2 linked regions of the Homo sapiens genome follow. The protein of the gene in region 2 interacts with the protein of the main gene of each other region in a pairwise test. Each region holds a gene or a part of one and is shown on either strand. Other genes may lie near its edges. The genes, in order: VMA12 and ERLIN1.

Evidence for each region.
Region 1: the proteins of ERLIN1 (region 2) and VMA12 interact in binary tests that used the Homo sapiens proteins (3 or more experiments, as listed by UniProt).

The regions. Positions count from the first base shown.
Region 1 is NC_000017.11:28,360,531-28,364,183, reverse strand, and holds the end of VMA12 (vacuolar ATPase assembly protein VMA12), read right to left. Parts: coding exon 3,613-3,653; intron 3,531-3,612; exon of another isoform or gene 3,450-3,530; coding exon 3,337-3,449; intron 3,028-3,336; coding exon 2,932-3,027; 3' UTR 501-2,931; downstream 1-500. UniProt on the Homo sapiens protein: Accessory component of the proton-transporting vacuolar (V)-ATPase protein pump involved in intracellular iron homeostasis.
Region 2 is NC_000010.11:100,168,860-100,176,345, forward strand, and holds part of ERLIN1 (erlin-1), read right to left. Parts: intron 7,212-7,486; coding exon 7,086-7,211; intron 5,423-7,085; coding exon 5,349-5,422; intron 1-5,348. UniProt on the Homo sapiens protein: Component of the ERLIN1/ERLIN2 complex which mediates the endoplasmic reticulum-associated degradation (ERAD) of inositol 1,4,5-trisphosphate receptors (IP3Rs).

The sequences.
Region 1 (3,653 bases), on a different chromosome or scaffold from region 2:
TTCCCTGGCCCCACTTTTTATGCAAAGGGATTCCCTACGGGAAAGGAGTTTAGCTCAGGCATCCCTCCCTTCCACTGGCCTCCAGGCCAGCCTAGATGCAGGTCCTAAGCAGACTGGGGCCTGGCTCCTGCCACCCCACACCCTGACCCCTTTGGGGCATATGCTCATTGTTGTGGCAGGTGGTACCTTCAGAAGGATGAGATGAGGGTCATGTTTTCCTCCACTCTTGCCAGGCCTGGTCCCCAGTTCTCACCAGCTGATGGCCTCCTCCTTCTGAAGGGGCAGGCTCCTGTCTCCTGAGGTCTCTCCAGGCCATTACCTTGCTAACTGCTAAGTGAGGTAGGAGAGGAGAGTGCTGCTCCTCATCTAGACTGCTGGAGAGCCAACTTCTTTATGGGTCAGGGCCCCCTCTCTTGACCATCGACCACCTGGACAAATTAATCAGAACTACGGATGTGAAGAGGGAGTGGCATTAAAGTAATGAAGCAAAGATAGGAAGCTGGGGCTTATGTTGATTTAATTTTCACAAAGATCAGATTGGATGCCCTCTGATGTGGGGCTGTGGAGACAACCTGACAGATCTGGGATGGAGGCAGGTATAGCAGCATTGGGTTTTGGTATCACCATCACCTGTAATACCAACTAATCTCCAAATAAAACCCAAACTCTGTACCTTAATCTGGATTGTTGTGCTCTGCAAACGAACGGGGACGAGGGCCGTTTGCCATGGAAATTTATCTCCATCACCTAATCCCTAAATAGGGCCAGGTTCCACACAGATACCTCTTGGTGGGAGGTATTACCCAGGCTTCAGCTGGGATTAGAGGGATAGTTAATTGAAGGGTTTAGGACTCTGACTGACAAGACCCTGGGGAGATGAGAGCCTCTGCTAGCACCCCCAGCTCCTGGTCCCACTGAATCTAGGACATTCCAGTCACCTCCACCTCTGGAGCTGCTCTGCTTTGGAGAGAAAACCATGGTGTTTGCGGTCTGCACTGGATTCAAATCCTGACTTTGCGATGTAACTGTGGCAACTCTGGAACTCTATGTGACTAAAAAATGGGGATACTTATTTGCTCTCTGTTTGGGGTATAAGAAATAATGTAGGTAAAGGGCTTTACATGGTGTGTAACACATCGTAAAAACTCAGTAAACGCTAGTTCCCTCTCCAGACAGGCCCTAAGAAACTGGGAAGGCCCTAAACTTCTTGTTCTTCCCACCTCCTGCCAAGCAGTCCCTGGACCCAGAGTGCATTACAGAAAGCATGGCACAGTGAGGCAGGAGTGGCTAGCAGATGAGAGAGCTCCCTTCTATATGCTGAGAACTGGAGGATAGGGCATTTGGTTCTCCCCTCCCAGTGCCCCCTGCTTTTTCATTGAGACAAGGTCTCACTCTGTCATCCAGGCTAGAGTGCAATAGCATGATCTTGGCTTACTCAGCTTACTGCAACCTCTGCCTCCCAGGCTCAAGTGATCCTCCCACCTTAGCCTCCTGAGTAGCTGGGACTACAGGCGTGCGCTACCATGTCAGCTAATTTCTGCGTTTTTTTGTAGAGATGGGCTTTTGCCATGTTGCCCAGGCTGGTCTCAAACTCCTGAACTCAAGCATCCTCCCACCTTGGTCTCCCAAAGTGCTGGGATTACAGGCATGTACCACCACGCCTGGCTAATTTTTTTGTATTTTTAGTAAAGATGGGGTTTCGCTATATTGGCCATGCTGGTCTTAAACTCCCAACCTCAAGTGATCCGCCTGCCTCAGCCTCCCAAAATGCTACGATTACAGGTGTGAGCCACCTCACCTGGCCCAGTGTAGCTTTTTAACACAAATTTTATATAGCTCAGGTTACTGGAAACACTGTAAAATGCCACCTACTTTTTCTTTTCACAGCTGACACTTCTCCCAACTAACAGAAACTGGCAAACATTGTAGAGGAAGTGTCCACTGAGTGAATGAGTATATAATTTATGAAAACAGAAAAGTGCTTTGGAAAAAAAAAAAAAGACAACAGGAGTACATACAGTGAACCAAAAAGAGTGTACCAGGAGGAGCAGACCCTGAACAGTTAGAACTATGGAAATCGCTATGCTTTGTGTTGTCACAGGAGTTAAAATAGGAATACCCTGCATACAATAAATATTTATTGGATAAATAACTAAGCCTGATACCCTTTTCAATGCGTTATACAGACTCTATCATCACACCACTAATCTAAGTTCTCAGAAGTTAAACATTACAAGACTTCAGAACAACATAGGCGTCTTTGGCTCCATTTAACAGAAGAAGGACCATAGTGATCATTTAATCTCTATGAGTCTGTCTTATCTTCTGGAAAAGGGGCCTAACACCATTTCCTTTTGCAAAAAGGTAGCTGCCTTGCTTCCAGTTCTACCATCCTCTAGCAACCCATCTTTCTCTTATTTGATGTCTCTGATCAGCTCCTCTTCCAGCACAAACTGGAGAAAGGGGATCCTTTCTGTTTTCTTGGAGGCTTCTGAACTCAATTACAGGTCTGCATTAAAAATGTATGGAGAAAGCTGGTGATCAGTTTGTACATATGGACAAGTTCAAGGCAGTATGGTCTACTTCTGGGAAGGCCTGGATTCCATTTGCTCCTGATGGAAAAACCCTAGTCCCAGCAGTGTTTAGAATGAACTGGAGAAGGCAGATGGGTACCAGATTCAGGAAGAGGTACTGATAGACCAAGACCAGTTCTTTCTGTTTTAAAGATGTGTTATCTCAATCTCCTCCAATGCTCCCTTTGGAAATTCACAGAAGATTAGGGCTCCCCACAGAAACAGCAGCTGGCCTGGGCTGGTCTTCTGACTAACTGGAGCTGAATACAAAAAGTCTGATGGGTTGACTGAGTCGGTGACTGCCAATTGGAGCCTGAAGCCCCCAAAGTCTTCTCTAGACTTGATGATGAAGCACCAGTTACAGTTCTCCCAGCTCGCCTTCCATTGCCCGCACCATGACATACAGCTCGGCCAGACCCACCACAGAGGCGACGATCAATGCAGCTAGCACCCGCTGGAGATGGGGAGAACCAGGCTTAAGGGATGCAGGCCAACAACCAGCTCTGTACCCCAGCAACTTTAATGAGGATGGAGAGCCCCCCAACCACCCTCTAAGTTGGGGGAGGGGAAGAAAAGAGAATGTGGCTTCTCCTGGGGTTATTACCTAACCTCCCGTGACTGCTGGAAAGCTCTAATGCTCCCCTTATTAATGGCATAAATATCTGTTCAATACCTAACCTGTGCAAGGCACTTTCACATACGTCCTCCCTTACCCACTAACACCCCCACCAGGGGCACCCTGCCCTGCCCAGTGCCTACTCACCGAGGCCATTTCTGTGAAGATATATTGGCTTCCAAGGTAAGTGCAGACGAAGGCAGCAACCACCGTGACAATGAAATTGAAGATGGTGATGACCAGAGCCTTCAATGATCTCACTTTGGGGAGGAGCCAGAGAGGGCACCTTTAGTTCAACATTCTCTAGGAGGTGCTCTTATCTCATGGCTCCCCCACCAACTGGGTTTCAGTCAAACAACAAGCCTGAGTGTCATGACCCATCTCAGGAAAAGGTTTTAGAAGCCTGATCTCCTAGTACCTCACCTTGCTTTCCCAGGTCGCTGAGAGTCCCACCATGTCTTGTA
Region 2 (7,486 bases):
TTTTAGTAGAGACAGGGTTTCACTGTGTTGGTCAAGCTGGTCTCGAACTCCTGAACTCAGGTGATCCAACCACCTCGGCCTCCCAAAGTGCTGGGATTACAGGCGTGAGCCACCACACTCGGCCAGGACTGTCTTTTGAAGACTCCTATTTTGCTGAATGAGGCTGAAGAACATACTACATTGTGCTTGCCAATCTTGGGAAATCTCACAGATTTTCAAATATGTGAAAACATAAACACTTACTGTACAGATACCATGAGTAAGTTGCATCAAAAGAGATTTTAAAAGTAAAAGTGGGAAGTCCCACTCAGGCACCCCTCTCCCTCACAGGAGAGAGAGCTATTCTCCTTTCTGTTTCTTTTGCCTATTAAACCTCTGCTCTTAACCTCAAATAATAAAATAATGCCCCCATCCCACTCACATACATAGAGTGAATGGAGGAAAAAAATGGCTAATGAAAGGAATATATGTATTGAAACTGACCCCTGGGTTTTAAGCATATATTATATATCAAAAGCCAGTCTATAATATAGTCACTCCCTTAAATAACATAGGAAAAAAAAAATCAAAGATGACCATTTTCATCATTCTAATTTGCCAGAGTAGTTTTTCAAGAAGAAAAATGGTATATAAATATATGGAAAGGAAAAAAATATAATAGTGACTGTAAAAATAGTAACCCAAAAATTACTAGAAGGCAGTGAATTCAAGTTGTAGATATAAGATAAATCTACCAAGAATCAATCACATTCCTCAATGATTAAAAAAAAAAAAGACTACATATTGAACAGCATTAAAATTCATTAAATCCATTGGTATTAATTTAACTTAGGATATGAGTTTCTCCCCTAAATCAGAAATTCTAAAAACCAAAAAGGCTGATATGATAAAGTAAAGCCATAAACTATGTTTCTATTTTTAACTTATATTGGAGGATTGCATGAGGCCAGGAGTTTGAGACCAGCCTGGGCAACACGGCAAAGGCCCATCTCTACAAAAAATAAAAAAATTAGCCAGATGTGGGGGTGTGTACCTGTACTCCTAGCTACTTGGGAGGCTAAGGCAGGAGAATCACTTGAGCCCAGGAGTTCAAGGCTGCAGTGACCTATGATCATGCCACTGCACTCCAGCCTGGGCAACAGAGGGAGACCCTGTCTCAAAACAAAACAAAACAAAACAACATGTATATGACCACTTAGGTGCCTGATATAGCTTGAAAATATCGATAATGAAAACTCATCTGGAAGATTAAGCTGGCAGAAACAGCAAAGGCCATTATTTTTTAAAAGATGATGTCTCTTGCCAGATTTTAAAATAAAAAGTTGAATTATCACAACCATATGGTAATGTGTTAAAAATAACAAAGCTCAAAAACAGCCTTGAAATTCTTAAAATGCATTCCAACTATTGTAAAAAAAATTTTATAACAAGACAAAAGCAACCAAAGCAAAGGAGCTCTTCTCTTCTCAGGGTATGCTTAAGTTATTGCAAAATATAAAAATTATTTTAAAATTTTTTTAAACCCTAAAACAATGGAGATCTCTACCACTTTAAGAACGTATAACAAAACTACATTTTTTCAATCAATAACTTTTTATAAAAACAGCAAATAAATATAAGTAAATTCAAAAGATCCTTCTGGCTGTTGTGCAGAAAATGAAGTAGACAAAGGTAAAAGTGAAAGTGGGGAAAGAAGACAGGCGGCTACTGCTACTGCACATGTCAAGGTTAGAGTTGGTAGCTTGGCTTGAGATGACAGTGAAGATGGAGGTGTGGTCAGTTTTATTAATACATGGATTTTGGTGGTGGAATCTGCAGGACATAGGGACTGATTAGATGCTGAGGGTGAGGCGATTGTCAAAGATGCCTCCTACACTTCTAGATTGGCTTGAGGGGAAAGAGTTACCATTAACTGACAAGATGAAAAACACAGGAGAAAATTCGATTTGATGAGAAAAGACCAAGGACTCAATAACTAATGAAAGAGTAGGAATGGGAAGATCAATGGAACAGAACTAAGTTCAGAAAAAGACTCTAGTATATAATGGAATGCAGTATGTAACATAAAAACTATTTCAAAGAAGGGGGAAGATGGAAAAATAAACTATTCAGTAATTACCGCTGTTACCCAATTTGGGGTTGAGGGGATGGAGCTGAAGGCCTACCTTGCAACTGAGATCAAAATGGGTTGCAGATGAATTAAAAGATTTAAATCTAAGAATACAACTGTAAAAGCAGATACAATTTTTATAATTTCTAATTTTAATTGCTATACTTTTAAGGTGGTGAAAAGCTCTTAAAACATGCCAGCTCAGCAACACACCATAAAGACAAAATCACTGAAATTACTATGTAAAACATGAACACTTCAAAGTTATCAGCAAGGAAAAAACAAAGTTAAATGACAAAGAAAAAATTTGAAGAAAATGTTTCCTATAAATATAAAAAAGAGCTACAATAACTAACATATGAAAAAGTTTATTTTTAAAAACGAATTCTACCCCTCTCAAAGGGTAAGGTTCAAAAACAAGTTCTCTATATACAAATGCTATTTATTTATTTATTTATAGACAGGGTTTTGCTCTGTTGCCCAGACAAGAGTACAGCATGAACACAGTTCACTGCAGCCTCAACCTGCTGTGTTCAAGTCATCCTCCCACCTCAGCCTCCCAAGTAGCTGGGACTACAGGCACATGCCACCACACCTACCTAATTTTTTAAAAAAATTTTTTGTGGAGAAGGGGTCTCACTATGTTGTCCAAGCTGACCTCAAACTCCTGGGCTCAAGGGAGCTTTCCACCTCAGCCTCCTAAAGTGGTGGGATTACAGATGTGAGCCGCTATGCCCAGCCAAAAATAGCTTATTAAAATCAGTTAGAAAAACCATTAACTACAAAAATGAGCAAAACCAACAATTTATAAATGAAATAAAAACAGCTAATAACCTAGGGTATTCAACTTCAATAATTAACACAAAATAACAGACTAATTTTCTCCAAAAGGATTAAGAGAGAAAGGGAAAGCTTGCATCTGCTAATTATTTGGGTACAATCATGCAATCAAATGTGTAAGAACTACAGCTTACCAACACTGCTAATGAGGGGGGGAGCTGCTAAAATTTTTCTAAAAGGTGATTCGGTAGTATGTATCAATAAGCCCCCAAACAGGGCATACACTTTGATCATCAATCCCACTTCAAGAATTTATTGTAAGAGAGGGATTTAAAAAGATGTACAGAATATATAAGCTTGGTCATTCCAACATGCATACAGTAGTAAAAAATTTGAAACCATAGAGATTCACTAAATATAACCATTAAAAGTAATGATTTACCAAACCTATATTTTTGTTTTGGAAAGATGTTCATAGACAATGTTAGTGAAAAAAGCAAGTATGGTATGATTCTGCTTTAGTTGAGCATGTATGCATTTATATCTACAAACATTTGTTCATATACATTAAGAATAGTCGAGAAAGATATAACAAATGATGTTATCCCTGCATAATAAGATTACTGGTGAATTTCATTTTATTCTTCATCATTTTCCTAGTATCTAACTTTTTTCTACAACATAAATAACGTGTGTGTATAAAAATTCCAAATTTATACAGAACAAATCAGTAAGAAAGAAAACAATCCAACAGAAAAATGGGCAAAAGATATGAATAGGCAATCAGCAGAAGACAGTATAAATGACCAATAAATGTATCAAAAGATGTTCAACCTCATTAACAACCAAAGGAATGCAAATCAAAGGGAGATATAATTGCCCACCCATCCATATGGTAACAATCAGTATGTCTGATTGCTTCCAATGTTGGTGAGTTCATGGGTCACAATTATTTGCACATATTGCTGTTAAGAATGTACATTTGTACAGTCAGTTTGAAAGATAATTTGTACATACAAGAACATGTGTCATGAATGTTCATTACACTATTGTTTAATAGCAAAAAACTGGGAACAGAAAAATGGCTAAGTAATATAAGGCAAGGAATTCTAAACAACAGTTGAATGAGCTAGATCTCTGAGTAACACCCTGGGCAGAATCTAAGAGCTGACCTTCACATTCACTATCTTTAAAACTAAAAAGCTACTCCAGCTACAACTGACTTGAACAACTCAGAGGATTTTACAAAGTTACCTCTGGACATTTCAAACGACCCCTTAACTCTGGTGGCTCACCCTCAAGCGCCTGAGATAATGACATTGCATGAATGAGGCCATGAGGAAAACCCCACCTATCTTTCAGTCTTGTTTTTGAGAAGCACGAACACATACAATCACAGTGAGCGCACACTCTCAGTAGCAGTGGTGCTGAGTGTAAAGAATTGAGAGACATGTGATAAGCTTTAGTTGCAGTAATGTTCATCACAACAATCAACAATCAACTGGTCTCCTAGAGCTCCTGAGAAAGGACACTAGAGAAGCCTCAATATAACTTCTTAGGTCATCTGGATCCAGAGCAGTGGCTTTCGAATGTTACTGACAGTGGACACAGTAAGAAACACATTTTGCACTGACGTCCAATATAAACACCTACCCCGCCACACTGTGAAACACAAGTGTCACAGAATATTTAAACTTATTACATACCATTTCTTTTCCTATTCTATTCCATTTTATTTAAAATGCTGTTCATGACTCACTAAAGTTGATTTTACAACCCACAATCTGGAAAACACAGTGACCCAAAAAAAAGCAGGGGTAAAACCTCTCACCATTCTATTTCCCAACGTCACCATCACCACTACCACTAAATTCACCTGCTACCTTGTTTTTACTAGGGCTGTCCCTCCCACTTGAAATACCTTTCTCATTCTTCCCCCATTTAAATCCAATTAATTTTTCCAAACCTACTTAAAATCTCAACTCAATCACAGCCCTCTCCTAGACACACTGTCTTCCAATGTTCTCTTACTCTTACAGCAATAATCATTCAATAGATTCATCTGTCAATTAATACTTTGTGATAACTATTTTGTCCAGGATTGTTCAAATTTTACACTTGAACTCCCTTTTCATAATCTTACTGAGGGCAGGGATTATGCTTACACTGATTTATAACCATTACTGTATCTTAATGCTTCATACATGGCAGAAATATGAATTTTACTTCCTTGTAAGAGCCTCAGCTTATCAGTTCCCTCTAGGAGTTCACAAATGTCACCCATAGTAAGCTACAAGAGTATTTTATTTTGGCAGAGATCTAAAGTCAAATTGAGAAAGGTATTCTATAAATCACCATAGCATCTCAAATAATTGCTGAATAAAACAATCCAATGAAAGGAGGAACAAACTCAAAGCTCTCAAAATCCCCAGAGAACTTCCCTAGGAAAAGAACTTACCTGTATAGTGAGACCTGGGGCCATGAGGTTTAAGTCTTTCTGCAGAGCTTGCTTCAGGTTTTCATCTATTTGATCTGTTTTTTAAGCCAAGAACAACAGATCTCATGATAGTCAATTTTTTTTACATTGTATTCATAATGAAACAAAACTAATCATTATTAGACCTAAAGTTTCCACAGTACTATTCTTTTACAGAGCTTAAACTGCCTTTTCTTCCCTTTTGTGTGGGAAAAAAATTGCAAGGAATTATCTAATAAAGAAATTAAGGAACGAAGATGACAAGCAGATAGTCTGTTTATCCAATAAGTTTACCCACTAAATGTATTACTTAACTATGGATAAGCTTTTTTACTGGGTAACTTATTAGACTTATTTACTGGATAAACAACTACTGGGTAAAATATGTTGATCTAATAAATGGAGAATCTGGATCTCTAGTATCTTAATTCAGGGCTCTTACTCAATATGTATCCTCATTCTCAAAGAAAAACAAATTTCTATGTTCAGTAAATCTTTACTCAAATTCCCAAATAACTAAACTTCATTTCCATGGATCTCAGCCTCACTGTTATTTTGGATTTAAAGAGAGAGAGAGAGAGAGACAGAGAGAGAAGCTCATAGAAAAGTATTTGAAATATACACAGCATGAACACTTGGGCTTGTAACTATGCACTTTCTATTCACCTCAATGGTACTTTCGCTATTTAAATGACTGGTGGTGAGACAAAGCAGGACCCATCAGTTTCCTCACATGCCACTTCAGTGGTTGACAATCACCAAAGAGGACTCAATTGGTAGATTTTAAATTGATTACTCTTGCTTATTCCTTCATCTTAGAAATTCACTAAAAATTTCAGGAGGGAAAAGTGAGCTACCAACAGCAACAACTCATTCCCTGGTCAGAACTTCCACTATCATAAATGAAAAGTAAGTTGTACAGAAGTGAGTTAAGAAAGCAGGGCTGATACTGCAATCCTTAGAAAGGCCTTTTGTAAACTCGTCCTTGGTTGGCACCTAGGAACTTGGATTTGTAGAAGGGTCCCACTATCCCCAGAGCTAATACAATTGACTTGCTGTGAACTGTTTATACAATGTGGCTTATGCCAAACACCTGCATTCCTTCCAGGAGTCTGGAATTTTTATGTGGTAGGCAGAGGGTGCCTACATAATCAGCCCCCAGTGAAAACCCTGGGCAATGAGTCTCCAATGAGCTTCCCTAGTAGACAACATTTCACATGTGTTGTCACAGCTTGTTGCTGTGGGAATTAGGCACATGTTTGACTCTTGGAAGCCTGCACCTGCTTTCCTCTGCATTTTGCTGGTGTGCCTTTGCCTCTCGCTGATTTTGCTTTGTACCCTTTGGCTGTAATAAATCTTAGCTGTGAACACAACTATGTGCTGAGTCCTGTCAGTCTCCTACCAAATCATCAAAAATGGGAGCCTCAAGACACAGGTTTCTAAATTTTTCAAATTATCTATTAAAACATCAACAAAGCTAATTTTCACTAAGTTATTACAGTAAAAACAGAATACAGTCTGAGTAGTTTTTCCAATCTCTAACAAGTTATATAAAAAATTTTAAACTTAAGATAAAAAATATTTTAAAGACAATTGCTCTATGATAAATTCAGAAGAAATGCTTAAATAGCACTAAGGTTTACCAATATAACCTCAATAAGTAAGCTGAACAAAGATTTCCAATTGGCTATTTACATACATAAGAATTAAGACACTTACCAAACAATTCAATGTAAACTTCCTGAAGTGTGTGGGCACTGCAGAACTGGTTCAGCTCATGGTGGATTTTATTGAAGATTAAGGTCTTGTCATAATCTGCAGTATAGTTCCTCACGATATCAAACACTGAAGGAGAGGTACAACCCATGTTTGTTTTACCCAACAATGACACAGGTACCTTCAAATTCAGCCAGGGTAAAAGTCAGGGTGATATATTACACATGAGGAAAAGTGCCAACAAAATAGTGAAACCAAAAACCACAACTAACAAATCTTGATGTGTTGCTTGTGCTCAATTTTCCAAATACCCTTGCATTTGTAATACTAATGCCAAACACCTGCTGGTTAGCCCATCAAACAGGGGCTAACTTTAAAGTCCACACTAAAGTATCCATTATTTT